Linked DNA regions of Homo sapiens: regions 1, 2, 3, 4, 5 and 6 are each reported to be linked to region 7. Evidence: microRNA targets listed by miRTarBase, many of them from high-throughput screens and not tested one by one. Region 7 holds a microRNA gene; each other region holds the end of a gene's coding sequence.
What was found. Region 7 holds the annotated microRNA hsa-miR-30d-5p (UGUAAACAUCCCCGACUGGAAG, at 2,928-2,949, opposite strand). A microRNA usually pairs through its seed, bases 2 to 8, with sites in the 3' UTR of a target mRNA and lowers its output. Matches are read on the target gene's strand: a 7mer-m8 pairs with bases 2 to 8, a 7mer-A1 pairs with bases 2 to 7 and ends in A, and an 8mer does both.

Region 1: the mRNA of IL21R is a reported target of hsa-miR-30d-5p. Seed matches in the 3' UTR shown: 8mer at 544-551.
Region 2: miRTarBase lists GLCE as a target of hsa-miR-30d-5p. Seed matches in the 3' UTR shown: 7mer-m8 at 1,390-1,396 and 8mer at 956-963.
Region 3: miRTarBase lists SOX12 as a target of hsa-miR-30d-5p. Seed matches in the 3' UTR shown: 8mer at 519-526.
Region 4: the mRNA of ARID3A is a reported target of hsa-miR-30d-5p. Seed matches in the 3' UTR shown: 7mer-m8 at 3,210-3,216.
Region 5: the mRNA of PPP1R14C is a reported target of hsa-miR-30d-5p. Seed matches in the 3' UTR shown: 7mer-m8 at 2,122-2,128.
Region 6: miRTarBase lists GOLGA1 as a target of hsa-miR-30d-5p. Seed matches in the 3' UTR shown: 8mer at 3,126-3,133.

Annotation. Positions count from the first base shown.
Region 1 is chr16:27,448,865-27,452,930 of GRCh38, forward strand. IL21R (interleukin 21 receptor) reads left to right here. Exons shown (of 9, transcript NM_181078.3): 9 at 1-3,178. The coding sequence ends at 419. IL21R-AS1 (IL21R antisense RNA 1) reads right to left here. Exons shown (of 3, transcript NR_037158.1): 2 at 3,879-4,058; 3 at 1-942. Among named protein-coding and RNA genes, the nearest start is that of IL21R-AS1, 2.5 kb to the right of the region's middle. RefSeq lists enhancers at 142-381, 644-1,521, 1,182-1,341, 1,362-1,411, 1,752-1,901 and 1 more.
Region 2 is chr15:69,268,896-69,272,953 of GRCh38, reverse strand. It overlaps GLCE (glucuronic acid epimerase), which reads right to left. Exons shown (of 5, transcript NM_015554.3): 5 at 747-4,058. The coding sequence ends at 3,710. Among named protein-coding and RNA genes, the nearest start is that of PAQR5-DT, 28 kb to the left of the region's middle. RefSeq lists an enhancer at 290-847.
Region 3 is chr20:326,393-330,458 of GRCh38, forward strand. It overlaps SOX12 (SRY-box transcription factor 12), which reads left to right. Exons shown (of 1, transcript NM_006943.4): 1 at 1-3,832. The coding sequence ends at 480. Among named protein-coding and RNA genes, the nearest start is that of SOX12, 2.9 kb to the left of the region's middle. RefSeq lists silencers at 1-289, 650-719, 760-1,049.
Region 4 is chr19:971,616-975,681 of GRCh38, reverse strand. It overlaps ARID3A (AT-rich interaction domain 3A), which reads right to left. Exons shown (of 9, transcript NM_005224.3): 9 at 1-3,804. The coding sequence ends at 3,617. Among named protein-coding and RNA genes, the nearest start is that of WDR18, 11 kb to the left of the region's middle.
Region 5 is chr6:150,248,363-150,252,428 of GRCh38, reverse strand. It overlaps PPP1R14C (protein phosphatase 1 regulatory inhibitor subunit 14C), which reads right to left. Exons shown (of 4, transcript NM_030949.3): 4 at 2,037-3,683. The coding sequence ends at 3,609. Among named protein-coding and RNA genes, the nearest start is that of PPP1R14C, 110 kb to the right of the region's middle.
Region 6 is chr9:124,877,272-124,881,337 of GRCh38, forward strand. It overlaps GOLGA1 (golgin A1), which reads right to left. Exons shown (of 23, transcript NM_002077.4): 22 at 3,900-3,986; 23 at 1,004-3,339. The coding sequence ends at 3,259. ARPC5L (actin related protein 2/3 complex subunit 5 like) reads left to right here. Exons shown (of 6, transcript NM_030978.3): 6 at 1-462. Among named protein-coding and RNA genes, the nearest start is that of ARPC5L, 17 kb to the left of the region's middle. RefSeq lists an enhancer at 3,513-4,066.
Region 7 is chr8:134,801,992-134,806,057 of GRCh38, forward strand. MIR30D (microRNA 30d) reads right to left here and starts at 2,954; the gene lies at 2,885-2,954. It also overlaps a transcript of ZFAT not described here.

The DNA.
Region 1 (4,066 bases), not on the chromosome of region 7:
CAGCCCTGGACCTGGATGCTGGCCTGGAGCCCAGCCCAGGCCTAGAGGACCCACTCTTGGATGCAGGGACCACAGTCCTGTCCTGTGGCTGTGTCTCAGCTGGCAGCCCTGGGCTAGGAGGGCCCCTGGGAAGCCTCCTGGACAGACTAAAGCCACCCCTTGCAGATGGGGAGGACTGGGCTGGGGGACTGCCCTGGGGTGGCCGGTCACCTGGAGGGGTCTCAGAGAGTGAGGCGGGCTCACCCCTGGCCGGCCTGGATATGGACACGTTTGACAGTGGCTTTGTGGGCTCTGACTGCAGCAGCCCTGTGGAGTGTGACTTCACCAGCCCCGGGGACGAAGGACCCCCCCGGAGCTACCTCCGCCAGTGGGTGGTCATTCCTCCGCCACTTTCGAGCCCTGGACCCCAGGCCAGCTAATGAGGCTGACTGGATGTCCAGAGCTGGCCAGGCCACTGGGCCCTGAGCCAGAGACAAGGTCACCTGGGCTGTGATGTGAAGACACCTGCAGCCTTTGGTCTCCTGGATGGGCCTTTGAGCCTGATGTTTACAGTGTCTGTGTGTGTGTGTGCATATGTGTGTGTGTGCATATGCATGTGTGTGTGTGTGTGTGTCTTAGGTGCGCAGTGGCATGTCCACGTGTGTGTGTGATTGCACGTGCCTGTGGGCCTGGGATAATGCCCATGGTACTCCATGCATTCACCTGCCCTGTGCATGTCTGGACTCACGGAGCTCACCCATGTGCACAAGTGTGCACAGTAAACGTGTTTGTGGTCAACAGATGACAACAGCCGTCCTCCCTCCTAGGGTCTTGTGTTGCAAGTTGGTCCACAGCATCTCCGGGGCTTTGTGGGATCAGGGCATTGCCTGTGACTGAGGCGGAGCCCAGCCCTCCAGCGTCTGCCTCCAGGAGCTGCAAGAAGTCCATATTGTTCCTTATCACCTGCCAACAGGAAGCGAAAGGGGATGGAGTGAGCCCATGGTGACCTCGGGAATGGCAATTTTTTGGGCGGCCCCTGGACGAAGGTCTGAATCCCGACTCTGATACCTTCTGGCTGTGCTACCTGAGCCAAGTCGCCTCCCCTCTCTGGGCTAGAGTTTCCTTATCCAGACAGTGGGGAAGGCATGACACACCTGGGGGAAATTGGCGATGTCACCCGTGTACGGTACGCAGCCCAGAGCAGACCCTCAATAAACGTCAGCTTCCTTCCTTCTGCGGCCAGAGCCGAGGCGGGCGGGGGTGAGAACATCAATCGTCAGCGACAGCCTGGGCACCCGCGGGGCCGTCCCGCCTGCAGAGGGCCACTCGGGGGGGTTTCCAGGCTTAAAATCAGTCCGTTTCGTCTCTTGGAAACAGCTCCCCACCAACCAAGATTTCTTTTTCTAACTTCTGCTACTAAGTTTTTAAAAATTCCCTTTATGCACCCAAGAGATATTTATTAAACACCAATTACGTAGCAGGCCATGGCTCATGGGACCCACCCCCCGTGGCACTCATGGAGGGGGCTGCAGGTTGGAACTATGCAGTGTGCTCCGGCCACACATCCTGCTGGGCCCCCTACCCTGCCCCAATTCAATCCTGCCAATAAATCCTGTCTTATTTGTTCATCCTGGAGAATTGAAGGGAGGTCAAGTTGTTTGTCAATGATTTGTCAGAGAACCTGTTGAAATGTGAATTAAGAAGCTAAGAAAATATTTCTTAGCAACATTTTCTTTTTCTTTTTTTTTTTTTTCTTTTGAGACAGAGTCTCACTCTCGTCGCCCAGGCTGGAATGCAGTGGTGCGATCTCGGCTCTCTGCAACCTCTGTCTCCCGGGTTCAAGCGATTTCCTGCGTCAGCCCCAGAGTAGCTGGAATTACAGGCACACACCACCACGCCTGGCTAATTTTTGTATTTTTAGTAGAGCTGGGGCCACCCTGGCCCGGCCCCGTCTTCCTCCCCAAAGGTCAGACTGCAGGCTGCAGGGCTGTGCTGGAGGAGCCAGCTCTAGCTCACCCATGCTTTTGCAACAGGGTCGGGTTGGAAGTCAGCACAGGTCAGTCCTGCGGAAGGTTCCTTCGTGACTCATCTGTGAAGTGGGGTGGTTGGGAGAGGTAGCTGAGAGAATGCATGAGAGTCCTCGGTGCCTGGCAGGAGGCTGGAAGGTTCTAGAACACTGATGGTTATAAGAGTGGGACTGTGAGCCTGGGATCGGGGGGTGTGAGACTTGGATGGGAGCACAAGAGTGGAAACACAGCTTCTGCACGGAGCAGGCGCAGCCCTCAACACCCCGTGCACCTGCACCCTAGGGACTCTTGGGTCCAGATGTGCTGTGGTTTTCACACCTTCTTGGGGGCAACAGGTTCCAGGAGCCACCTGTGGGTGCCACCTGAGCCACAGGCTCCCAGGAAAGCAGCACAGCTCTCCTGCACCCAGAGCTTGCTGGGTGGCGGAGGGGAACACAGATGGTTGGGGAAGGCCTGAGGCCAGATTGGGGGACTCTGGACTGGGGCAGATGAGGCTCCTCAGAATCCCACCTTTGAAGGGAACTCAGCTTATAAACACAGAGGAGCAAAGTTGGAGGGCCGGGCGTAGTGGCTCACACCTGTGATCTCAGCACTTTGGGAGGCCAAGGAAGGTGGATCACTTGAGGCCAGGAGTTCGAGACCAGCCTGGGCAACATAGCAAGGCCCCATCTCTACAAAAATTATTATTTTTTAAAAAAATTAGCCAGGTGTGGTGGTGCTTGCCTATAGTCCCAGCTACTCGGGAGGCTAAGGTGGGAGGATCGCTGGAGCCCAGGAATTTGAGGCTGCAGTGAGCTGTGATTACACCGTTGCACTCCAGCCTGGGTCACAGATCAAGACCCTGTCTCTTAAAAATAAAAGTTGGAGACAAGAGCTGGCTCACCTGAAAGGAGGGATTAGTAGGTAGGAGGGTGGATGGAGGATGGATGGATGTGTGGGTGGATAGGAAGATGGTATTAAGTTGGTGCAAAAGTCTTTGATATTACTCTTAATGGCTTTAATAAAAAGCTTGAAGGAAGAATGATTGGTTGGATAGACAGAGATAAATGCATACTGGAAACAAAGATAAAGATAAAACACAAGTTATACCAGGCCAGCAACTCTATTTTGTTCACTGCCTTTAGTCCCAGCCTGGCACATAGTAGGCACTCAATAAAGCCTGATTTGTAGCATTTGCTTATTTCCATGGTGTAATTTCATGCTCCTGATTTGAGTCTAAACACAGAGTTGGGAAGAGATATGCACAATCTGCCCTCCTGGCTGGTATGAGTGAGTCCCAGCTCACCGATGGTAGCCCAGAGAGAACATCAAGAGGAGTAGGGGGCTTCAGGGAGGAGGTGGTGTTGGTTGGACTTCGAAAAATGAATAGGAGGCTGGGAGTGGTGGCTCATGACTGTAATCCTAGCACTTTGGGAGGCCGAGGCGGGCAGATCATTAGAGGTCAGGAGTTTGAGACCAGCCTGGGCAACGTGGTGAAACCCAGTCTCTACTAAAAATACAAAAATTAGCTGGGTGCGGTGGCGGGTGCCTGTAACCCCAGCTACTCAGGAGGCTGAGGCAGGAGAATCTGAGAGATGGAGGTTGCAGCGAGCAGAGATCACACCACTGCACTCCAGCCTGGGTGACAGAGCGAGACTACGTCTCATAAAAAAAAAAAAAAAGGAAAAATGAATAGGCGTTGTTACATGTACCAGCTATTTGGGGCAGAGGGAAGAGCTTGGACAAAGGCCTGGAGGTACGACCAAGGGTCAGGAGCAAGTGGGACAGGCGCTCCTCGCCCTCCAAAGACCAGGCCAGAATTGCTGACAAGACTCACTGAAGAGGAAGGGGGACCGATAGCAACGTCACTTTCCCAGCTGCCGCATTCCTCACCTTGCCGTCTGCAAGCTCTGAGGGGCAGAGTCATCCGTCTGACAGATGAAATGAAGGCACAGCTCAGGCTGGTGACCTGCCTGAGGTCACACACTGAATGAGTGGTCGGAGCTGGAACCAGAACTCTGGGCTTCTGATGCCACTTTCAGCTCTTTTTCACCTTGCTCTGCTGGAACGTACCTAGATCA
Region 2 (4,058 bases), not on the chromosome of region 7:
TTCCCAACTGAAGACGGTGGGGAAGGAAAAGCTGCCAAGAATGTTGATTAGTAGCCTGTCAAAATCTGTGCACCCATCAGCTGGAAAAAGTTGATTCGTGATCAATTGTAATTCCATTACACAAATGGTGCAGAATGTTTATAATCCAAAAAATACTGTGCAATGAAACATAACATGAAGCAAGACTCTGGTCTCTGGTTTTGTCTGTTTGGGAGGTTAAATCATTATTCTTTGAGAAGGGGGTAAACATTAAATAATGCTAATTGTTCTGAAGAGGCAAGTAGAGAAAATATATGAGGGACAAACTCTCAAATAAATCTAAATAAAAAATGGTTACCCAGTCTGAATGAGCATGGGAAAGGCCATCCTCTCACCTGGCATGGACACCTGTTTTTGCTCAGGTTACTCCCTCCTCTTCTTCCACCTGGACTCCACCCCTGGAACACCAGCTTAGGCTCTGTCTCTTCCCTAACACCTTCCCTGAGTACACAATTTAGCATTTTATTTTTCTTCGAGTTTTTAGTATACATTGTGCTCCCCCTTGAAGACTAAGGGTCCTTAGGATTAAAGCCCATGCATACTCTTTGTTCCCACACATTGTCTGACAGGGCTTGGTATGCCTTTGATGAACAACATTTGTTGCCTGACTTCTGGTCACGGGTTGAACAGGAAATGGTCAGAAATCTGCTTGCTGGGCTCAAATAACCTTAGAATAATTTGAGAAGAAAGAGAAATATCCAGGTATATTCTTTTTAAGAAAAAAACTTTATTTTACAGTTTTATAAAGCGGCTTTACATTAAGCACAAACAATCCATTTACTTTGTATAGAAACAAAATACCTTTCCATCTGCAAAAAATCAAGTTTTGCTGTATATAAAACTAACATGTGCACATTGTGCTTAAACTGCAAAGTCTGTACAGCTTTACAAAGGACTACCCTTCAGAAGGGCATCCTGTAAACACTTTATTGCATATTTAACATATGGTATATAACCCACATGTACAATGGAAGAGAAACAAGAAAAGCAACCACAAGGAGGATGAAAATAGCAGCTTTCAGTGAGAGTCTGCACTGAGAAAGGAGAAGGAGCCACGTCTGGAGAGTTGTGCTTGTGTCATTTTTGCACTTGCTTCTGTGCGCTGGATGGTTCGTGGATGAAGCCTTTATGTACAATAACTCCTAAAAGGTCAAACTTGACCTTCATCCAGAAACTTTTGGCTGGTTTTACAACTGAAGTAGCAATAGATTTAACATCAAAGTGAACTCAAGATAAGTGGAAAAACAAAAACAAACCTAATACCTATAATCTTAAAGCAAAGAAAAACTTAAAGAAATAAAACAATAAAATTTAAAAATACCCTCCCCATTCTCTCTAAGCTCAGAATAAGTAAACATTTTACATAATTTAAAACCCTAGAAAATTCTGTAGTTGTTTAGAGGCAAAAATGCAATGGATAGTCCAGGGCAGTGTTCCTCCCTGTATGCCCCCAGCTCACCTGCATCAGAATCACTTGAATGCTCATTACAAATGCAGACTATCATACTTCACAGGCAGATTTACTGACTCTGGGATCTGCATTTCAATAAGCTCCCAAGTGATGCTGAGGCATTTTAAAGTTTGAGAACCACTGGTCTGTACTGACAATGCTGCTATAGATTCAACTCATCCTCTTAGAAAATTCTGGGATCACAAGAAATCAACTTGCTGTTGCAATGTGGAAGGCAGTGTAAAACCAACAGCAAGGAAATCACAACGCTATTTCTAGATCAAAACGTCTTTCCTTCTTCAGTGGAAAAGGACAGCCACATTGTTAAGGCACGATATTTGTCACAGAAGCAGTACCATACTGTTATCATCGAGTCTCATAATCTGAAGACCAGTATGCAAACAAAGCAGACGTATGAACCATTCTAAATAATAACAAATATGGGGAAGTAAAAAAGGTTCCCAGACTGGAGAAAGTTTATTTTGAACATCGGCACTGGGAATAAAAATTAGGGGAGACCAGATATTCTTGCTGAGACATCTAACATATATGAAATGCAAAGGTCAAAAGCTAGGGGTAAGCCTAATAACTCAAAAAAGTGTTTTTACTGTGAACAAAATTAAGAAGAGTGTGGTCACATCAATTGGGAGTTCAAGCTTACTTTTCTATGGCCAGTCTAATGTCTTCAGTGCAGATCTGTATCTTCTTTGCTTCTGCCCCCTTTGATGCTAACATATATATGTTTTCCAGTTTCTAAGTAGTGCTTGATAGTTTGAATTCAATTAAAATATAGTGTGTAAGCAGGTAACCTACCTGGCTCCTAAATGTGTACTTGATATAGGTCACAGATAAATGTATTGTGTTTGTCAGACTCGGTCCCCTGAAAGTGTAGGGTATCATATTTTCAAACTGTATAAGATATAGTATTGATTTAGTGTACTGTCACAGCAAAATCAACAACCCTCGGTTTTATTTAATGCCTGAAGCCCTATAGCAGACACTGCCCATTGTATGGGGGCTCTGAAATCTATTTATGTGCGGTATAGGAGGATATGTATACCTAAATAAAGATCTGATTACACATAAGTGCAGTAACATCCCTTCTATCTAATAGCTGGGATAATTTAAAATTAAATTAAAAAAAAACACCCAATGATGCACAGACTTACTAGTTTGGGAAGCTGATGATCAAGAATGATCTTGGTAGGAAAAAAAAACTTTGCTATGATTTCTTGCATATAGTATTTGATCTAATATTTTTATTTAAAGGGGGAAAAATCCTAAAAAAGTAAAATATGGTGGTGGCCTTAAAGCTACTAGCTCCTTTCCAAATTTAGATTTGTAATAAGTTTCCAAAATAATGTCCCAAAAATATCTCTCTCAAAATATACAAAACTCCAAGGTATAGTCTGAAATAAAATACAAAATTCTAGACAGTGACAAAAAGAAACTGTCACAATGGGGGTTGGGAAGGGATATACTGATTATCAAACTTTTACTGATTGTAGATCAAGTTTCAAAACAGAAACATTTTTGTAATTTCTTGTGCAGTCAACAAGTTTCATTTTAGTTGTGCTTACATTATATAACTGAAGCCTGAACACTGATTGTGTTTTTAATTTACACGTTTCAAGAAAACCATAATTAAATATTCACCATATACAACAAATTGAACAAATGCAACAAATACTCATTTGCTCCCAAGAAATTAATCTTTAGAAAGGAAACATCTTTTTAAAAAGTTGAACACAGTCTGCTATCCAGGCTACAAGTACATATTTACTGTGTTACAGCACATTATTTTTTTTAAAGTCCGCTTTCAACATAAATATAAATAATCACATTTTAAAAGAGCTCCATACTAAGTTTTCAGGTAAGTGCTAGACAGTTGGCCAGTAGCAACTACTTACCATTATCTTTCTCACATAGAGTGACTAGACTATCTGCGAAACTGTATAGGGTGATGGGCAAGGCAAAGTGAAGCATCTTTGTTCAGCCCATTGATTAAACATTGTGTTCTAAATGCCACCTACATTTCTAAATACCCAACCCATGGAATGCAATTATTTTAGAAGGCTGGTTTTAAGGATCACTTATCACTTTGATAGAATCCACAAAAACCTAGTACATAACCTTTTAAAATGTGCCTATGCTCTCCTGAGACAGAGCCTGTAGTTTCTGTGTACAGCAGAGGCTGAAGTGCAGTTTTGGTTGTGAGCTCTAGTTGTGCTTTGCCCTGCTGCCTTTAAGGTAGCTTTTCCACCTCTTGACAAATTCTTTGAAGACTGGGGACTCATCAATGGTACTGAGTAGCTGCAACTGATTGATGTGGGTGGTATGATAGTCCCAGCGAGCCAGGTTAGGAGCGATGCCAAGCATGAAGTGACGGAGGTCATAGATGGTTCCTGAGCCAGTGTCATACAAGGGCAGCATGGCTTTAAGAGATTCCATGCCACGCTCATACAAGGACCTTGCTTCTTTTCCGAGTTTTTCCCCTGCAGTTTCTTTTAAGTCATACAGCCCAATTAAAGAATACATAAAGCCATTTAAAACAAAAGAGCTAGGTGTG
Region 3 (4,066 bases), not on the chromosome of region 7:
GGCGGGGCGGCGGCGCCCGAGGACGACGATGAAGACGACGACGAGGAGCTGCTGGAAGTGCGCCTGGTCGAGACCCCGGGGCGGGAGCTGTGGAGGATGGTCCCGGCGGGACGGGCCGCTCGGGGACAAGCGGAGCGCGCCCAAGGGCCGTCGGGCGAGGGGGCGGCCGCCGCCGCCGCCGCCTCCCCGACACCGTCGGAGGACGAGGAGCCGGAGGAAGAGGAGGAGGAGGCGGCAGCGGCTGAGGAAGGTGAAGAGGAGACGGTGGCGTCGGGGGAGGAGTCGCTGGGCTTTCTGTCCAGGCTGCCCCCTGGCCCGGCCGGCCTGGACTGCAGCGCCCTGGATCGCGACCCGGACCTGCAGCCTCCCTCGGGCACGTCGCACTTCGAGTTCCCGGACTACTGCACCCCCGAGGTTACCGAGATGATCGCGGGGGACTGGCGCCCGTCTAGCATCGCAGACCTGGTTTTCACCTACTGAGCCCACCGTCAGCGGGGCGCGCACGCCCCCAAACCAGCTGTTTACATACAGGAATCAGGTATTGGGGCCCCTCGGAGGCCGAGGCTGGCACCCCATCTCCCGCGCAGCCTGCCCCCTCCTGGACGTGCCCATCCCCCCTCAGATCCAGACATGCCCCTCCCCCGCAGACACACCCCAAGGCAGCCCAACCCCCACCCCTTCCCCGACACCCAAGCCCCTCCCCACGTCGCCCCCTCCTGCACAGCCACCAGCAGCCAGCCCCCTCCGATACACCTCCCGTCCTCTCCTACAGACCTGCACCCCTCCCCCCTTTTGCACACGCCCCTCCTCGTGGCCGGAGGACCCGCCCCCTCCTTTGCTCCGGAATCTCTCCTCCCTCGCCCGGCCCGCCTTCTCTGGGTTAGGGGGGCGATGCGGCCGGGTGGCAACGCACGCGCCTCCTGCGCCCCTCCCTTCCCTGGGGGGAGGGGCGCACCCCTTTTATCCCCGGAGCGCTAGGGCCCGCCCCTCCGCTGGGGCCCACCCCCTTCGTGCGCATGCTTAATGCTTCTGGGGAGGAGGGGGCTGGTCCCAGCGGAGCCGCACTCTTCGCCCGCTCCGGGCAAAAGCGGGGGCGAGTGTAGAGCGATCCTGGGAAATCCTTTGATCCGGGAGCCCTAGGTTTCCTCTCCAGCCAACGGGGCGTCGCTGCCTTAATGGGAGGAGCACTCGGAAGGGTTGGTTTGGGCCTGAAACTCTCCCAAGTGGCATAGCCCCTTTTCCGGTATGGGGTCTCCTACACCCACGCGCACCACCTCTCCGGTCGCGTGGCTGCCTCTACAGCCTACCTATACGTCCCTTTTTCCCCCCAACTGGGAATTGAGAGGTAAGGTCTTTCTCTGGAAATCCAGCAGTAGAGGAAGGGACCACCCAAGAAAACTAAAAACCAAGGCACCTTACCAGTCTGTCTGGGGACAGGATCCCTGCTGCACCTTCCCCACCCCCTCCTGGGAAGTGCCCCCTCACCTCAGGGCACCCGCAACCTGGGCTCCTCCCTGAGCGCACCGGCCCTTCCTGTCACCCAGGTCCACCCTCAGTACTCAAGCTGCAGTATACAGCGGGAAAAACTGAGGCACTTTGGTGCTAGGGGTTTGGGACTGAGGCGTGGAGAGCAGATGTGATGGCAGGAAGACTCTCGCTTTTAAACATCTGGTTTGGGAGAGACCATCGACTTGGCCAGTGAGACTGAGAATGGATTCCGAGTAGTGATGGGCCGTTTGCACCTCGGTTTTTCCACGTGAGAAATGGGGAGAACGCTGCTGTTAGGAGGAAGTTGTGTCCAGTTCAGGGTGCCCTCGGGAGCCCTGTCCCTGTTGCTGTGGCCCCTCTCACGCCGCCATCTCTCTGCCCCGCCCCGCCCCTCCGGCCTCCCCACACCCCCCTTGCCCTCACTACCTGTATCTCACCGGCGTGTGTTCACCCTCCCGGGTGGCTCACACACTCTCATTCACACACACAAATCTCAGGAACAAACGGTCCCAGAGTCCTCCGGACCCCTGCCCAGGGTCTCTGCAGGTCTCTGCCCCACGCGTTCCCGTCGCTGACAAAGCCACCAGCTGCCTCCTTTAAGCTTGGTGCTCCGGCTCTGGGCCTTTCTTGCGCTCTATTTTTTTTTTTTTTTTTTTTAAGAAAAACAACAACAACAAAAAAAGACAATGAAAAAAAAAACGTCATGTGAGTGAAGAGATGTCACTGTCTGTGGTCTTGGAGAACTAGTCTCGTAGCTGAGGGGTGGGGTCCCTCTGTCTGGGGCACTGGCACCCACAGCAGGACTCCGCCAGTCTGATGCCAGGACTGAATAAAGTGTATTTGCCCCGACCTTGCCCTGTGGTTCTGCATGTCTGTGCTCTTCCTCAACCCTCCCTAAACAGTTTGCCAGATTCAAGTCCGTGTGATTTGGGCCCGAGCTGGGTGTCCCAGGGCAAGCCACCTTGCCTGTCTAGGCCTCTATGTCAGGACTCCCTGGCCTTCATGAAGAATAGCAAACTCATCCCTGTAGGGACCAGGCAGGTAACATAGACGAGTGACTCTGGGTGGACAGTGGTGTCATGACCCACTTCAAGGGGCCTACCTCCTGCCAGTTGTGACCCTGTGGGAATGCAGTCCACAGTGGCCAGGTGGCCAGATTTTTCAAGAAAAGCTGGATGGATGTTTCTGAGTCATCTTAATTTCAAAATGAGACTCATATTTTAAAATTTCTGTGGGCCAAATGAAACAAGTATGCAGGCAGGTCTGGTCCGAGGGGGCTGGCTTGGCCATGCCTTTCTGTGCCTTTAATGAGGACTAAGAAGCAAGATTGGGCCACACTGTCTGGACTCAAAGCCCAGCTCCACCACTGAGCACCCGTGTGACTCTTTCCATATGTATAACGTGGGGATAATAATAATAGCTGCTTCACAGGATGAAATGAAGTTTGAGGTGAGAAGCATTCACCATGGTGCCCATCGTGTTACTCCATTGTCAGAGGAGGAAACGGGGTCAGGCAGGAAAGCAACTTAAAGGAGGGCCTGCAAGCAGCCAGGGTCAGAGACAGGGCTTGGTTCTGCTTCCTGGTGAAGCATGGCTTCGGGGTGCTGCCTCTCCCTCCCTGTTTGAATCTGCAGATTGTGTTAGGCCCCCAGCTGAGGGCCTGGAGTGGTGGGATTGGTCCCAGTGCCTGGCGCACATTGGCCTGCAGAGTAGATTAACTGAATGACCAAAGAGCAACAGAAGTCTAGTGATTCTTGTCTTTGAGGTTCTGACTGGTGTTTTACAACTGAGTCCAAGGCTTTTCCCTCCTTTGTCCCTCTGACACCCCTCCCCCTAATTCTCATCTGTCAGATCCAGTGTATTCCTAAGCTGGGACAAAGCCTCTGTTTTCCCAGTAGGAGCCAGGGCTGAGTGTGGAAATTACAGTGACTGCTTCTTCTCAGCTTCTCTGGTTGAAAGCAAGCTGGCGAAGTAAGAGGAGGTAGAGTTGAGAAGGTGTGGAAGATAGGGACAGCTGCCCCCAGAACTCCCTTCAAGGGAGGACTTCCCCAGCTATGGGAAGTGCCATCAGGGTGGCCGCAGCTGCAGAGAGCCACTTCACCTGAGACCACGCCCTTCCTGGGGCAGCCTGTATCTGGTGTCTGAGTGAGGCATGGTATAAACACCTGGTCATTTCAATCCAACATGGGACGGACACTGACAGACAGTACTCCCAGCAGGCCCAGGCCAGCCAGGGCTTCGTCAGGCCTGCAGCACAATTTGACTTCCTATGCCCAGGCCTGCTTCCTCTTCTTCCTCTTCTTTTCACAGGTGCTTATTCCTAATAAACATCTTGCAACCCAAACTCAGTCTCATTGTCTGTTTCTAGAGAAACCCAGTCTACAACAGAGGGTTCAAGAGACTGGACAAAGGGAATTGGGTCAGTGGCCCAGCAACTGCAGCTAGGCCGGTCGGATGTATCCTAATGTCAAGAGTCTGTTCACCGATGCCATCAGCACCAAACTAGGGGCTGCACACTTTCCTAGTCTGCACACCAGTCACGTCAATTAGAGACTCCAGCCTCAGCCCGAAGGCCTTC
Region 4 (4,066 bases), not on the chromosome of region 7:
GCGGCCAGGGCGAGACAGGCTGGGCCCAGCCAGAGGTAGAGAGTAGTTTTATGTTTTTTAAAAATTTTTTTAAGTTTTTTTTTTTTTCCTCCTATTACCTGAGTTTCAGGCGTGGTTCCCACGCCGTCTGACAAACTCCAGAGAAACTGAAATTTCACACGTCATGAATGAAAGGCTGAGTTTACATTTGCCAAGGAAAAAAATGCAAAAGCACAATTGGGGAAAAAAGGGACAAGGTGGGTAAAACATGATAAGAGAAAGGAAATTCAACTGTACAGATGCGTGACCCTTAACAACGACCCCAGCTGCCCCCCGTGCCCCGTGCCCACCCTCCCGCCTTTCTGGACAGCCACTTACGGGTCCCACGGAAGGTTCCAGAAGCCGCCTTTCTCCCAACATCTCAGAGCAGGGGGAGCCCCCGTTGGCCTTGACTGTGGGGCACCCACTCAGTACGCAGCCAGGCCCCACGGTCCCAAGTGAACTAGAACCCATCCAGGGTCCTCGTGGCTGAGGGGACTGCCCGACCCCCTCCCAGTCTGCATAAGGGGGGGTGCTGAGCTGCACCCCAGAAAGCCACACCGAATTTAAACCCCCACCGACAGGCGGTGGCAGGAGATGGGCACGGCTGGGGTTGAACGGGGCCACCTGAGGCAGGGAGGAGCCTCTGCAGACACGGCTTCCTGCCGAGTATCCAGGACCGGGCCCCATAGACCCTCTGCAACCGCCTCCCATTTCCACGGCCAGCATGGCCACTGCCTTCAGCGACTTCCTTCTCCTGGGCCGGGACCCAGCCTCGCGCCCACCCCCCACCCACCCCGCCTGTCCCTACAATCATCGGAGTTAACAGCAGGCTCAAGTCCTCTGAGTTAGAATCCAGGTCCACCCACCGCCGGGAGGCCGGATCGCCCACAGACACGACACGCAGGATTCCCGACACACACACGCAGCCCGAGGGAGACGACCCAGCCCTCGACCCTGCACGGCCCCTCCCCAGGCTCCGAGGTGGGCAGGTGCACGGGGGCCCCAGGGGTCCAGGGCCGCCAGATGCAGCAGGCAGCCAGGCCCCAGTGGCTGCTGCAGACCCTGGTGCACGGGAGGCGGGGGAGAGGCACCCCAGGGGCTCAGATTTTGGCATCAAAAGTCAGACCTGAGGTAGACAGAGATAGGCAGCAGGCGCTTCCCCCGGCGCGGGGCCCAGGCGTGGGACGGGGGTCCCGGGAGAGGAGCCCTGGAGGCCGGGGGACAGACACGGACAGAGTCCAGGTGGTTCTGCGAGTGGGGCCCGATTGTGTCTGGAGGCAAACAGACACCCCCTTCCCGGGGTGATTGTGCTGCTACGGTGCTGGCCCCAGGAAGGGACAAGGAAAACCTAGACGCCCACCACCCCCTCCTGGAAAGGGGGTGTGTGTCCACGGCCCTGAGATCCGAGAAGGAAGTGGGGGTCCCCTCCCCAAAGACACAGGAAAGTGACAGTCCCCTCCCACAGCCCGACGGGAAAGTGAACCTAGACTCAGGGGCTCAGAAGCCCCCCAGCCCCCTCCCCAGGGGTCTCCAAGGCAATGGGGAGGTGGTTGGGAGTGGGGGGAGCTGGGGAGTCCCCTTCCTCACCAAGCCCCCATGCCGGTGGCCTAACAGGGCTCCCAGGGCCCAATTAGAGACCCAGGCTTACCCTGGGAATAGCTGAGTTAATCCCCACTGCACCCCAAGAGAAATGAAAGCCCAGAGCTCCCGTGTAGGACACGACAGCCCCGCCCAACACCACGCGGGTCCAACGAAGTCCCCAGACCCTGCTGGGCATTTCAGACCCAGCCTTTCTGCTCCAGCAGCTCCAGCCAAAATAACCCCCCAGCTCAGCTGCGGTGACCCCACTTTCTCCAAGCCAGGGGGAGGGGTACTGACCCACAGGGTGGTGGGGGGCAGCCTCCCTTCTCGGCCTCGATTTAGTCACCGCAGAACTCGGGGAGCTCGCAGCCCCAGCACAAAAGGGGTTGGGAGAAGAGGAAGGGACAGAGCGAGGAGAATGTTGGGGTGTGGGGGGTGTTCAGGATGCCGGGGCCCTGAAATCCTCACCCTGAGTGAGGTCCGGCTTCACCCCCACTCCCCAGTATTGATAGTCCTCAAAAGCAGCCCTTTCGGGCAAGAGAAGAATCCCAATGAGACGCCACATTCATCCCTGAGACAGGAGCCTGGGGGCTTCGACAAGAACCACCCCCGCCCCCCAGGCCCTTTTTCCAGCACTTGCTACTTTTTAGATAAGATTTCCAGACCGGGCCAGCGTGGCGGCTCATGCCTGTAATCCCAGCACTTTGGGAGGCCAAGGCGGGCAGATCACCTGAGGTCAGGAGTTCGAGATCAGCCTGACCAACATGGCAAAACCCCCATCTCTACTAAAAATACAAAAATTAACTGGGCGTGGTGGCGGGCGCCTGTAATCCCAGCTACTCCGGAGGCTGAGGCAGGAGAATCGCTTGCACCTGGGAGGTGCAGGTTGCAGTGAGCCAAGATCGCACCATTGCACTCACTCCAGCCTGGGCGACAAGAGCAAAACTCCGTCTCAAAAAAAAAAAAAAAAAAAAATTTCCAGGCCCCTGACTCGAGAGCCCAGCAGACAAGCACGGCACAAGCAAAAGCATCGTGGAATATCACAGTCAGCAATTCACTGTCAGGGGCCCCTGGCCGGTGGGACCCCAGCATGCACCCTCTGCCCCAGCCCGGCCCATAGCACCTGAGTTCATTGGCTCCGCGGCTCTAGCCCCAGGGATCCGATGTGCTGGGCTCACAGCTGCCCAACGCACCCCCAGAAATGGACAAAGGGACCCAAATTGGTCATGGGAAAAATAAAAAGGTGAGTTTTTTTTTTTTTTTTTTTTTTTTTTTTTTGCTTTTTTTTCTTGCTTTTTCAAGACCAGTTTCCCTGAAGGAACACAAATATATAGCTATATAGATATATAGATATCCTTTTCCTAAGGTTTGATCCCCCCAAGAATAAAATAGAATATTTACACAACAAAACCCCCGAAACCTCTTAAAAACCCTACAGAGAAAAAAAAATTTCCCAAAGCAACAAGAAAAAAACAAAAATTCAGTGATCTTGGTTCAGGGGTTTCACTGGACACGAGAAGCTGGGAGTGGTGAGTGTGTGGTGAATAGAAAATAAAAGAGAACTAAAGCAGACAAAAATGAAAACACACAGTGCAGGGATGTATGAGGTAAACAGGATCGGCCCACACTGCTGTGGGGCCAAACCAGACACCAGAGCCTTCGGTCCATCAGGGCTGCCTGAACGCCCTGGGAAACGTCTGCCTCTTTCTGTTTTTCTGATGGATTTCTTTGCTGTTCTCACAATTCATCTCTCTGAATGTCCAAAACCTGAGAAATTCAAGTGTTCCTTGGTTTTCCCCTGTTTTATTAAATTCTCTTTATATATATACGTGTATATATATATATATATATATATATCTTTTTTCTTTTCTTTTTGGCGTCAGCTGTGGCTCCTTTCTGGATATCTTCCCTCCCCACCCGTATCTTCCGCCATCCTGGCCCCTGTGTGGCCCACCTGGACCCCCTGCCCAGGCCGGCGGGCTCCAGGGTGGGTGGCGGGTGGGGAGTGATGCGGTTAAGGCAACGAGTTATTTGAGGTAGATGTGGAGGGTGTGGACAGCCCCGCTGGCCCAGCCTGGCCGCCGCTGGTTCCGGTGTTTCCTCCCCGGCCGCCTGCGTTGCTGCTGCTGCCGCCGCCGCCGCCGCCTCCTTTGTTGGGAGCAGAGGTTGGCGTGGGGGCCGGCGGCTGAGCAAACAGAACTCCTAAGGCAAGAACAGAAGACATATGCCATGCAGAGTTTAAGAAGATGCGAGGCGGGCCACAAGGGAGACCCAATGGGGTGCTCCGGGGAATAAACTTCTCTCTCACTCTGTCCCCCAGGCTAGAGTGCAGTGGTGGCATCAGAGCTCACTGCAGCCTCAACCTCATGGGCTCAAGTGATCCTCCCAGCTCAGCCTCCCGAGTAGCTGAGACCACAGGGGCGTGCCACCATGTCTGGCTAATTTTTTATTTTTTTGTTTTTTT
Region 5 (4,066 bases), not on the chromosome of region 7:
TGCTCAGCTGCTAAGCCCAAGTCCAGGAGCTTTATGTTATGGGGAAAAGGCAAGAGGACTCTGGATAAGGAGGGCCAGCATCACAGGGCCTGGCTGCACTGCAGATGGGGAGCAGGGAGTCCCTCAGTTCCCAGGAGTGAGGAAGAGCCCCACAGGTGGCTGGGATCTCCTCCATCCACAAGGCCTCCTCCCCTACCCTGCCAGCTCAGGGACCTGGCTCACTTTAAATGTGGCTTCTGGGGTTCACTCTTGTGAGTGGGACTAAGAGTAATTCCCTAAGAGTGGCAAGAAAGTCTAATGGTTATGGGACTTTGGAGCCAAATAGGTTTGGGTTTGAATCTCAGTGTTGTAGCTGTGTGGACTTAGGTAAGCTGCTAAGCCTGAGTTTATTTTCTTATCTGTAAAATGAGAATGCCACCTGCCTCATAAGGTTAAGGTCAGGATTAAATGAGATAAAGCATGCACTTAGCACAGTGCTTTTATTATGATCGTTATAAATGGAAGCCACTCCATGAAGTTTACATTGAGATTTCCCAATGTTCAAGTGAGCGCGGCACTAGAAGTTGGATAATTTGGAGCCATTGCCCTAGTGAGAAGACTCTGTATGAGAAATAGTGAGTGTGCTAATACCACAGCTGCCACCTGCTGTAATAGCATAAACATGGAGAGCTGAGGTCAGGCTAATGCATCTGGCCATCCAATGGCACAAGAGTGACCCAATGGCCCAGCGATGCGCAAGCTGGAGAGCTTGAAAACAAACACCCCAGCTCTTGTCCTGGAGACGCTGATTTAACTGGTCAGAATTGACTGAGGCCTAGGCTTCCATTGTTTTTAAAGCTTCCCAGTGATTCAAATGTACACTCAGATCTAAGAACCACAACTCTAGCTGGGAAGAAAACAGTGGAGTTTTCTTGAATCTTTTGTCATTTTCATTCAACTGGCAAACACACAATCTCTTTGATGGGCCAAGCCTAGGACCAGATGCTTGGTGAAGTCCAGATTCCCAGCCTCGAGGATCCCAGATTCTAACAGAAGACACCAACAAATGGATAGGCAATAATGATACTGTGGATGCGTCTATGACAGAGTATAGGCTGGAGCTGAGGGGGAACACACCTAGGAGGGGGTCTAACCCAGCTCTCTGGATACAGCCTGTTGGCAGAGGGGGCGTTCTGGGCCAAGGCAACAGATTTTACAAAGCACCAGAGAAGAAAATACATAGAACACGCCAGAAACTCCAAGGAATTTGGCAGAACTGGGCATGAGCACAAGGCCAAAAGATGAGGTGGGAGAGGCAGAGACAACATTTCTCATAAGGCATGCAGAGGGTTCGGGTTTCAAGCAGGGGGTGGAGTCGTCAGACTATTCTAGCAACTGGGTGGAGGATGGATCAGAGGGAGACAAGCCTGGACATGGAGAATCTGTTCCCAAGGTGGTGGCAGCAATCCAGGAAAGTTGGACATGGGATAGGTTTGAGAAGTATTCACAGAGGACAAGCTGGGTGACTGGGAGCATACTGGGGAGTCAAGGAAGAGGCCCAAACTTCTTGCTGAAGCACTCACGGGGATCAGGGCAGGAGGGAAGGTGGGGAGGAAGTGTGTGGTGGGAGCAGAGGCCTTTGGAGGAAAAGTCAATTCTTACTTCATCTGAGACCATCACATGGGCTGGTCAATTAAGCCTAACAGAAATCCTGCCCATTCTGTATTTTTCCGACTTCCATGGTGCAAGGCATTCTAACAAGTGGAATAGTTTACTAATTTGAAATGTTTTTGAGGGTTCTTGTAAGATGGCAAAGAGGAGTTTTAATTAAATGAAAGGAGCATGGCCTAGGACAGTGCCAGGCTGAGCACACAGAGCTCGTCTTCTTTCTCAGCCCAAGAATGTGGCCCAGCTCCTTTGCTTTCACCACCTGATCTGAAGATGCCTGAGGAGAGGGCCAGGATTACATGCCTAGAAATCCTTGAAAATGAAATGAAACGAGGTGAGGTGCTTGGTCCTCACCTCTGCAGAGAAACTGACACAGCAAAACCATCATGTTAACGTGTTGTGCAAGCCACACATGTCAACAGGCTTGTAAGCAGCTCCATTTATTTGAGTAAATATCTTGTAAATAAATCATTGGTAAACAATACAAAATTAAATACATTTTCAAAAGCTTGCCAGTATACGCAAAATTCACAAACATAGTTTTTTTAAAAAATAAAATATGTTCAGAGCACCCTTGATATAAAATGCCTGACCCCCATCCTTGGACAAGGCCACCTGAAGACATCTTATGGTAGGTGGGTTTCTGTGGGAGTCAGCGGGGGCCTCCTGGAGGGAAGGGTTTCTACTCTCACCTATTACCCATCCCACATTCCATCTGAATTTTGATCCTTCTCCAAAGAGCTGGTAACTGAGAGGGCTAGAGCACGCCACCAGGCCTAGCTCCAAGCACGGGGATCAGGGTGCACAATTAGGGCCAGGAGCACCCAGAGTCCTCAACACAAGCCATTGAGAGAAGCCAGAAATGCAATCTCCACACTTCCAAACCAGCAACTCAGCTCCTAGAGCAACTGTCTTGAGAGAATGTGAGGCTTTCTCACCTTGACACTTAACACTCGGTTTACTCCCACTGGTCTGATACTACCCAGGCACAGAAGCTACCAGAACCTATTTCTAAGGAAGAAGACACTCGATCTGCTAACTTTCTTTTGATCTGCTTTCCTGGAGAGAGAATAAACACAGTACTCGGTGGAAAGCAGACAATTCACTGCTACACAGTGCTTCCTTTTTCCAATGCAAAATACCACTGAGATAGTGTGGATATTTCTCTAGAAATCAAGTTAGTTCTTCAAATTAAGGGTTCATACAACTTTAAAAGACTACAAAATGAGACAATAAGCACATGACCTGGCAAAGCATCCCAACCAATGAAATAATAGAAATTCCATAAATTAAGCCCTTGACCAACTTAACATTTCTGTGGTGTAGTGCATTAAAATAACGGATACACTGAATTCTTTCACTTTGGTGCATAAAGTGAACGTTGAAGTCAGCAGCACTCAGTGAAGAATGCCTAGTGGCCTCTTGAAAACACATGTGCTGGGACCTCCAGTTAAAGGACAACCACAAGTTTATTCCATCCATGTGAAATAAAACTCACATCAACATTTTAACTTAGTTGTGTGTAGATATATACAAGTGTGAGAAATTTGACAGCTGAGTCAAATGTACAACTTAAGAAAAAAAATATTACCAAACTACTTGTAAGAAAACTATCTTCCCTGTATCATAAGGTACTGAACATCTGAGTCCTTGCAGGAAACGCAGCCTGGCGTGGCCCTTCCTTGAGTGTCCACCTCCTTTGATAATCCTTGGTTAGGCTGTGGCTAGAGTCATGATATCTTTGCTATTAAAATATTACATTAACAAAAACCTTTAAAACCAAAAAAAGAACGCTCTTGAATAAATGTCTAATAGACCCCCCCACCTTCACACCAAAAAAGAAAAAAAAAAAAACAAAAACGTTGTTCATAAGGACACCTATTCTTTCACAAAAGTCTTCATGAAGTACAAATCCCAGGACTCTTTCTTCGTCTCTGGGAGAGTTTCACCCTGTTCCAGAATCATACACTCTTCTTCTGCGGAGGGCTCAGTTTCCTCATGCCTCTTATCCGAGAAAGCAGCTCTTTGATAAATTCCTAAAAGAGATCAGAAGAAGTTAATATGAGGGTCACTATTAAAATTCTGTGTTTAAAAATCTGCTTAAAGTAATTGATGTCAACTGCAGTTAACCTTAGTTGATGAATTTGGTTGAATGTGTTAACCCCCACTGGTATAATACAGGATTTTTAAAAACAAATCAAGAATACTAAAACTTCACACCACAATGCCTTCTTATTGTTCTACTTTCTTTACGGGGGAAACCAGGCTACTTTCACTACTGACATGACCTACTTGGCCCCTGAGGCATTTGTGTTGAGATCAGAGCTATTTAACATTACCATGCAAATAAATTAACTGGTGATCTCACAGATTCTGAGTGAGCCTGTCCAGGTTGGGGTCTGAGATTCTGCATTTCCAA
Region 6 (4,066 bases), not on the chromosome of region 7:
TAAACGGGAGAGCTTGTGTTTTTGAAGTGGAAAAAAACCCAAGAGTTTGTACAGACATCCTGTCTTCCCAGAGAAGGTGGACACTCTTGGGCTCATTGTAAAGTGCCTGCTGCATCAATAAAGCTCTTGGCTTATTAGTCTATACATTGCGGTGTGTTTCGTGTATGTAAAAAAAAATGGTAATGAATGGGATGGTAATGAATGAGAGTTCAGTTGTTGTTCCGGAAACCCGATGTGGAAGGAGTAGACCTGTGTCCCTGTTGAGCCACCCCTGGGAGCGAGCATGGCAATCCACAGGCCCTCTGCCACAGGACGCCAGCCTCGGCCTCAGAGCTGCCGGCTGCTGCAGAGAGGTGTTTGCTGAATAAACTATTTATTGTTTCTTATTCCTTTGATTTGTATGTAATTAATTTTGGAGCTTATTTAATTAATTTAATAAAGTGCCAAACATTTAATAATTGATCTAGGCTTTAAAAGTCTTCAGTTTGTGGGATTGCACTTGGAATCTTTTGAGGGTGGGGCCTCAGATGTGCCTGGTCACGTCTCCTGATGCTGGGTTGGCTGTGCTGCAGAATCACTGCTGCATGGACAAGCTTTCTTTAAAGAACTAAACGTCAGAAATGGGGAGCAATCAATCAGCAAATAGATGGTATAATTTGGTTCCCCATAACCAATAACAGAGCTTCTCTGAAGGGCAAAAATGCTTTTCTTTCCTTTTCAGCACATGTGACTGCAGCTTGCATTCTGTTAAAGGTTAGGGCCCCATTCACACTCCAGAAGCTCCTCTGGGTCATACAGCCTTTGGATACAGACTTTGACCAAAGTGACACAGTCCTCCCCTCCACAGCTCTCCCCTCCTCAGTCCCTCTTCAGAACCACTGCAATTCTTGGGGGGGGTAGAATGGGGCTGTTGGCTTCATTAAATTACGTATATTTATTCACCCAAATCCAGTCTGGGAAGGTTCTTTCTGAAAGAAAGACAAACATTCTCTAGCCCTTGAGGTTGGCCTTGGAGTGTTAAATATGAGACACAAAATACCAGATTTAATGAGTCAAAGAAATACTGACACACCAAACTAGTAAAATCCATTGTAGTTGCATCTGGATTGAAGAGCTTTAATCAAAAAGTGTATTGCACCACAGATGAATTTGCTACAGCAGTTTTCAAGAATACAATCCCTATTTACAACATGGAAGGAGAGCTCAAGATCCATCGCTCGTATAAAGGGCTATAGATACCGTCGCTAACACAGAAAGTTTTATACAAGTCAAAGTGCATTAAATCACTTAGAATATTTATTCCACTCTTCCTCTTAAAGCTGAAGGAAATTCAACATGCAGGAGGAAAGCCTAGTCAGTGAAGCCTCCCTAAAGTGAGTACAGACCTAGGAACGGGCCCCACAGCTACACCTGAAACTGCCGAGGAGTGGGGCCTGGGGTGCGTGTGGGACCAGTTCAATGGCTGGAGAAGCCACGGAGGCAGCGGATGGGCTTCTGTGGAAATGTAGCTGCCTTTGGCTGGCTGTGAGCTACCCAGTCTTAGAGATTCTTTCCTGGAACAGTTGAAAAAGGAAATCCTACTTTGAAAAAAGGCTACCTCTTACCCATCAAACTTGCAGAACAGAAGAGACTCCTGTTTCGTGTTCCCACCAGGTAAATGGAAATTCGTGTTCTAAACAAGGGATAACTGTCTGCAAGGAGGAGCCAGAGGAGGAGGTTAGTCACTGGAGAAGCGGCCTCTGGAAGGCAGAGAGCCTGAGCTGGGACTAAGGAGATGCTGCCCTGACTTGGTTCTTCATGGAAATTTCGTTAGGTTAACGTTGCAAATGCGTGTTTTTCTGTGACACATTTTATATACCTATTTTGGCCCTAAGCATGATTGAGAAATACAACTTTCCATCACTGGATAATGGATAATAAATTTAGAGGCTCCAGTTATTAATTTAGTTTTTTATTTAACCAGTGAAACTTTCATCAAACAATAAACGGTTTCCTTTTAGATTCAATATTGTGGCTTTTCCAGAACCAGCATGTTCCCTTTCCTCAGTAAACGAGGAATCCATAAAACAAGTTTTTGTTGGTTACTACCAGAGTCATGTGCATGCTACAAGTGCTGCAGCCAGCTGGGCGCCGTCTGGGTGTAGTGTCATTTTAAGTATTTGGGGTGGGATGAGGGAGAGAGAGCAGCTCCACAGACAAGGCAGACTGCCCCAGTGTCTCCATCGAGGCTGGGGGACAGCTGCTGCCCCCACTGGAGACAGCGGACTGTCCTTCAGTAGAAGACAGGTGGTCTGCATCGCCCAGCGGCAGCGCAGCACAGAATCAAGACAAAGCACACGAGATCCCACTGCACTTCAGAGGGAGCAGTGCCAGAGTGCGAGTGAGAAGACAAAGGAACAGGAATCCTAGTTTTAGGAAGAATTTCCTCTGGACGCTCTGATTTTAAGAACACCAGTTAAATGGATTTTATAGTACAGAAGACATGTTTATAGTAGTGAAGAACTTCAGCTATAAAAAATAGTTTAAAATGGTTTACCAGCAACCTATCCAAGACAAGTACATTCATTAAAAAGGCAATTGAGTGTATTTGGTACTAAGGGTCTTTTCATATATTTGCTAGTTTTCTTAAGTAAAGTGGAGATACTGTCAGAAAGGTGCATTTTCTCATTCATCCACACCGACCCTTAAAGATGGATCCTCTAAAGTTCTAGGTGGTTTGAGAGACAGGGTGAAAGAATATTTTCTTGAGAGGAAGGGATAAAAAGCTTCTAACTCATCTGAATTTTTAAAAGCCACTCCCATAGAGTTCCCATGGAGTTGGCTGTTCCTGGCAGAGGCAGGTGGGTTTGGCCTGCTGGGCACCATCTCAAAGGGCCGTCTCTACCTCCAGTAGCAGCGCTACATGGTGACTCAGGTGTGCCTGCCAGATGCTGATGGCTTCAGCTGTAAGTGCTACCGTGAAGTTAGAGGATTCAGGTGCAGATGGGGTGCTGGCTGGAGCTGGGATATTAGCAGCACTGTGGAAATCTGGGTAGTGCCAGGACCCTCCTGTTTGGTGACCAGAATGACAGGATCAGCTACCCCCTGAGGTTCAGGTCAGCCTGCAGGGAAGTGGGCCTTAGTCTTGTAAACAATGTTTAGACACTTGTACAAAATACTGCAGTTACAGTGATTAAAAACCCACCCAGACTGGTGTGTCAGTGTTCTTTTCACAGAAAAAGTGTCAACCCACGGAGCTCCATCCTTGGGTAGTCCCCTCTAGGACCATGGTATCCGAGGGTTTGAGATAGACGGCCGGATGCTGCCCTTGGGAGCTGGTTTGGACCCAAACCATGACATCTGCATTTGAAACAGAAAAGGCTTCTGAGATGCAAATCAGGACTTGGTGCCAGGGAAACTGAACCGCCCCTCCCCTCCCGTGAGCCTGTCACTCCTGCCCCCCACACATCCTGCCTCTGGCTCTGAGCAGAGCAAGAAGATGGTGCCAGTAACCAGTCTGCAGGCCCGTGCTCAGTACAGGAGGGAAATGAGAGAAAAACACTGAGTTGACAGGAACAAGGTAGTGGAACTGCAGGTATTTTTTCCTATTAGAGCATTTATGCAGACGCTTTTGGAATTTGAGTGCCGAGCCAGACCTGGGGCTCTCGATAAAGCGCTATCAATGAAAATGCTTTGAAAAATACGTGGCCTGTTGGTCAAGTACAGCACAGACATTTGGGCACAAAGGATGTCATCGCTAAAAAGTGCTTGGATCAAGTTCATCCAAAAGCAGCCAAGCTGATCATGCAGCTGTGCTGGTGCCTACACTCGGGTGTGGGTCTAAGGGGTCTTACACTGCTACTGCTGGGATAACTGACAACGTATCTTGGAAGCTGGAACAGTAGACCAGAGAACCCTACCTTATATTCCAGAGTTTCCTTGAGCATGTTCTCCTCCTCTTGGGAAAAGTTCAGCAACACTGACACAGCTTTTATAAGATGAAAAGCCTGAAACACAGTAAGTTTTGCTGCCATAGGCCTTGGTGAAGGTGAGGCGGGGTGGGGTCGGGGGAGCTACGTGGCATTTC
Region 7 (4,066 bases):
GGCCCAGCAATCTGTGTTTTAATCAATAAGCCCTCCAAGTAATTCTGATGCAAGCTGATATTGAACAGCAATGGACTGTTTCACCAAACCTGTTGGAAAGCTAAAGCAAAGACAGCAGTGAATGTCAAATTACTAGGAAGTTTGTAATATGGTACAGATAAGAAAAAGGCAATGCCAAAACATGTAGCATGGGTCCACCCACAATTAACCAGGCTAGGCAAAGTGTGGCAGAGACTATCTGAAACAGCCTTATTTTAAAAAGTAACTAAGCCCAAACTGATATTCAAACTAAAAAAAAGAAACAAAAATATTACCTGAGCACACACAGCAAATAATGCACATTGATCCAATGAATAAAGCTGTAACAAGAGTAGAAGGGAATCACAGAACATGCTCGACGCAATACCACATGCATGCTGGGGTTTATAGGTTCACAGTCCATTTCTGGGTAACCTCAAGCCCATGACTCATGTAGAAGGAACTGAGGTGTGGAGATCAATGAGAACAAGTCCAACAGTGTATTTATATGACTATTTCTAACCAAGAATATTTGTACAAAAGCATCTAATTTGAAATAAATTGGAAGACCCAATTTTGTAATTAGTTATTTGCTTTAAAAAGTTGTCCCTAAGTCATTTCAGACCATATACTCAGGATAAAATACTGTCATTTACAGAATGGTGTTCAGTAACTAAAAATGTTTTACTTTAAATATCAATTGGTAGAACAAATCTTAAATAATAAGTAATTTCTGTGCTTTCTAAGTCCTATCAATGAATACCACAATTTTTTTCTTCAACACTAAGTTAAGGGCTAGGGAAACAAGTTATTACAGGCTTATTGACAAATACTGATGATCTAACATTTCAAGCCATTTGCTATAAATAATCAATTGCTAACCTTATAGGCCAATGGGAAGTTAGTGGTTCTTCAATATAAAAACATAAAGAAGCCATCTGAAAACTACTAAAAAAGGCTGTACCTATGTATTATACTATACTGAAGCAAGGGCATCCAGAATTAAAACTGACATCGTCTTTGATTCACCTCATTAGAGGCAGAATAATATAGAACAAATGTTACATAACACAGATTGCCCCATTAATCTGTAGCATCTAGGGATAACTGGCCTAGCTGGGCAGAGTATAACAGCTTTATTATAAAGAATGCCTACCCCCTCATTTAGCTTAGGTTTGGCCTTATCATTTTGAAAAACCTTTCAAATTTCACTGCATAAATTATGCATCCATCTTACTAAATTTTAAAGCAGTATATCAAAATTTTTCATAAGAAATAAACAGTGTCACCTGGTCAAACAAAATAATCCTATTACCACAGAACACATTACATTCTACCTTTGGCAGGGAAGACTTCTGAGCTCAGCAATAACTATCCTTTCACTGCTATTTGAGTCTAAGGTTTCCAATGTGCTAAAACAGAGGGCCACAGAATATGCAATAAATCTGCTTTATTTAGAGTTCATAGGAAGGGATGCTTGATGCATGCTAATCATCCAGCCTGAAAATTGTATTTACAAGTTGGAAAGCCACCTGAGTCTGAAGCAACTGACCCCCATCCCCAAATAAGTCTTATAAACTACTACTCTAACAAAAGAGCATTTAAAAAATAAAAGCTGTAGCACAAATACATCTGGGGTAACTACATTATGACCAAAACTGTCATTTGCTCATCTGGATAAAAGATAAGAGGCAACAGTAGACACTGCTGCAATAAGATAATATAAAATCATTACTAAAGTACTATACATGCAAGGTGCTTTACTTGCTGTTTATAACAGGAAAAAATAGAATTATCAAGATTTAATGTCTCTGACCTCAGAAAGCTTATAATCTAATCAAAGAAAATAAGCATGTAAATACATTAGATTGGCAAGACCTTTATCTTTTGGTGGTTTAATCATGTATGGAACCTAACATAGTATGTTTAGCAGTTTAATAAAAATAAATGATTTAAAAAAACCAATGCTTTATTGAAAAGAAAAATGCCAATAAAATAGAAATGTTTTCCAGTGTCTGAAAGACTAACAGAAATAAAATAACAATTTTTTAAAACTCAGAAAATAGTTGCTATAAAATTATACATTATCAATTAGTCCACACTGAGTGTCATCTGTGAGAAAAGCCCTGGATTATTCAGATCTGTGGGGAAACACAAAAAATAGATACAATACAGCTGCTTTCAGGGCAGCTATATTTTAAGGAGGAAGCAATAAATCTGAAAGCAACAATCTGAAAATACTTAGGAAAAATATTAATATAAAAAGACATGCATACCCATTAGCAAATGTAAACAGGCTTAGTGGCTTGACGTCTTGCAGTTTTTCTTAGAGGAGAGTTCTGATTAGGAGCTGTAATATCACTCAGGGTGAGGGGAACAGGAAGTGGGGGGCTAAGAGGACGGAGAAAAATGTTGCACACACATCTCTTTTAAGTATAGGGAAAGCTGAAATTTCTAGATTGCATACTGCTGGGTGGTAGTGATGAAATTATTCTCCAGAACTTCCACAGAATTTACAATGGAGAAAATCAGTCTCCTGAATTGTTGGGATGTTAAACTCCAGCCTACTTGGAAAGGTTATAAAGACTAAAATTTCATTGACAGGGCAGAAACAGGAATAGGCGGTGACACTTTTTATTTAACTAAATTCTCTAAGGCCCAGCAGCAGCACGCTAAGTCTGGGAAGCTCGAGACGGCATATCCTGTTATTAGGAGAGCACCCTACATTCAACTATCATAATACGTGCACTGTCAGTGCAGTAAAAGAATGCAGCTAAAGATTTCTGAGGTTTTCCCACACATTTTATAGCCTCCTCAACTCCACTCCGGGACAGAATTATATCAAGAGGATGTCTGTGAATAGCCGGTAGCAGCAAACATCTGACTGAAAGCTTAGCTGTGTCTTACAGCTTCCAGTCGGGGATGTTTACAACAACAGACTTTCTGAACAAGAAATTTAAGAGGAGGAACAGACATAAATGTTGCCAGTCATCATCTTCAGCTAATAATTTATATAATTTCTAGTGCTGAACAATAGCTGTGACATCTTGAAACAAAAATGATAAAGTTAATGCTAATAATTAAAGAGAAAGTGGTTCACCAAGTGCAATTTCTCCTAAATAAATCTAATTTTAAAAGAAAATACGCATTACAAATTTATCTTGGTAAGTATGAAACATTAAAGATATTACCCTGATATCCTACATGAGGATACATTTTTCCAACATATGCAAAAATAAGTTTTCTTCTCCCTAGAGTTTCAAAATAGTAAACACATTAGAATGATAACCCTAATGATCAGTGACCATACATTTCATGGATGCCTGCTGCCCTGACGTTATTGTTAAAAATGACTCCTTTTATTTAAAAAAGCGTTAATTTAGTTGACAATGAATAGAGTGGGTTTTCCTGGCAGAGGATCTAAACTGAGTAAGAATCTAACACTTTCTTCCCCTGTCTCCAGCTGATTTAGGTTAGGGATGTACAGTTCAAGGAAATGAGCAAAACAAAGAGGATAATAAAAGAAACTCATGATCTTAAATTTGTTTATAAGGCAATATACTAAAACCATTTTGTTTCCACACCACTTTTCTGAAAGAAAGGAAAAAGACTAAGTGAAATATAAGTAAATCTGCATTCCATCAAAAACCAAGATTTGCTTTAATTTAAAATATGTAAAATTGCCAGGCACAGTGGCTCATGTCTATAATCACAGCACTTTGGGAGGCCGAGGCAGGTGGATGGGTAGATCGCTTGAGTCCCGGAGTTCAAGACCAGCCTTGGGCTAAGTGGCAAAACCCTACCTCTAAAAACATACAACATATTAGCTGGGTGTGGTGGTGCATGCGGTCCCAGCTATTCGGGAGGCTGAGGTAAGAGGATCCCTGAGCTTGGGAGGTGGAGGCTGCAGTGAGCTGAGCTCATGCCACTGCACTGCAGCCTGGGCGACAGAGTGAGACCCTGTCTCAAAAAAAATAAAAATAAAAATAAAATAAAATATGTAAAGTAACCTTCTTTTGGGGAAAAAAACTATGAAAACAATTAAAGT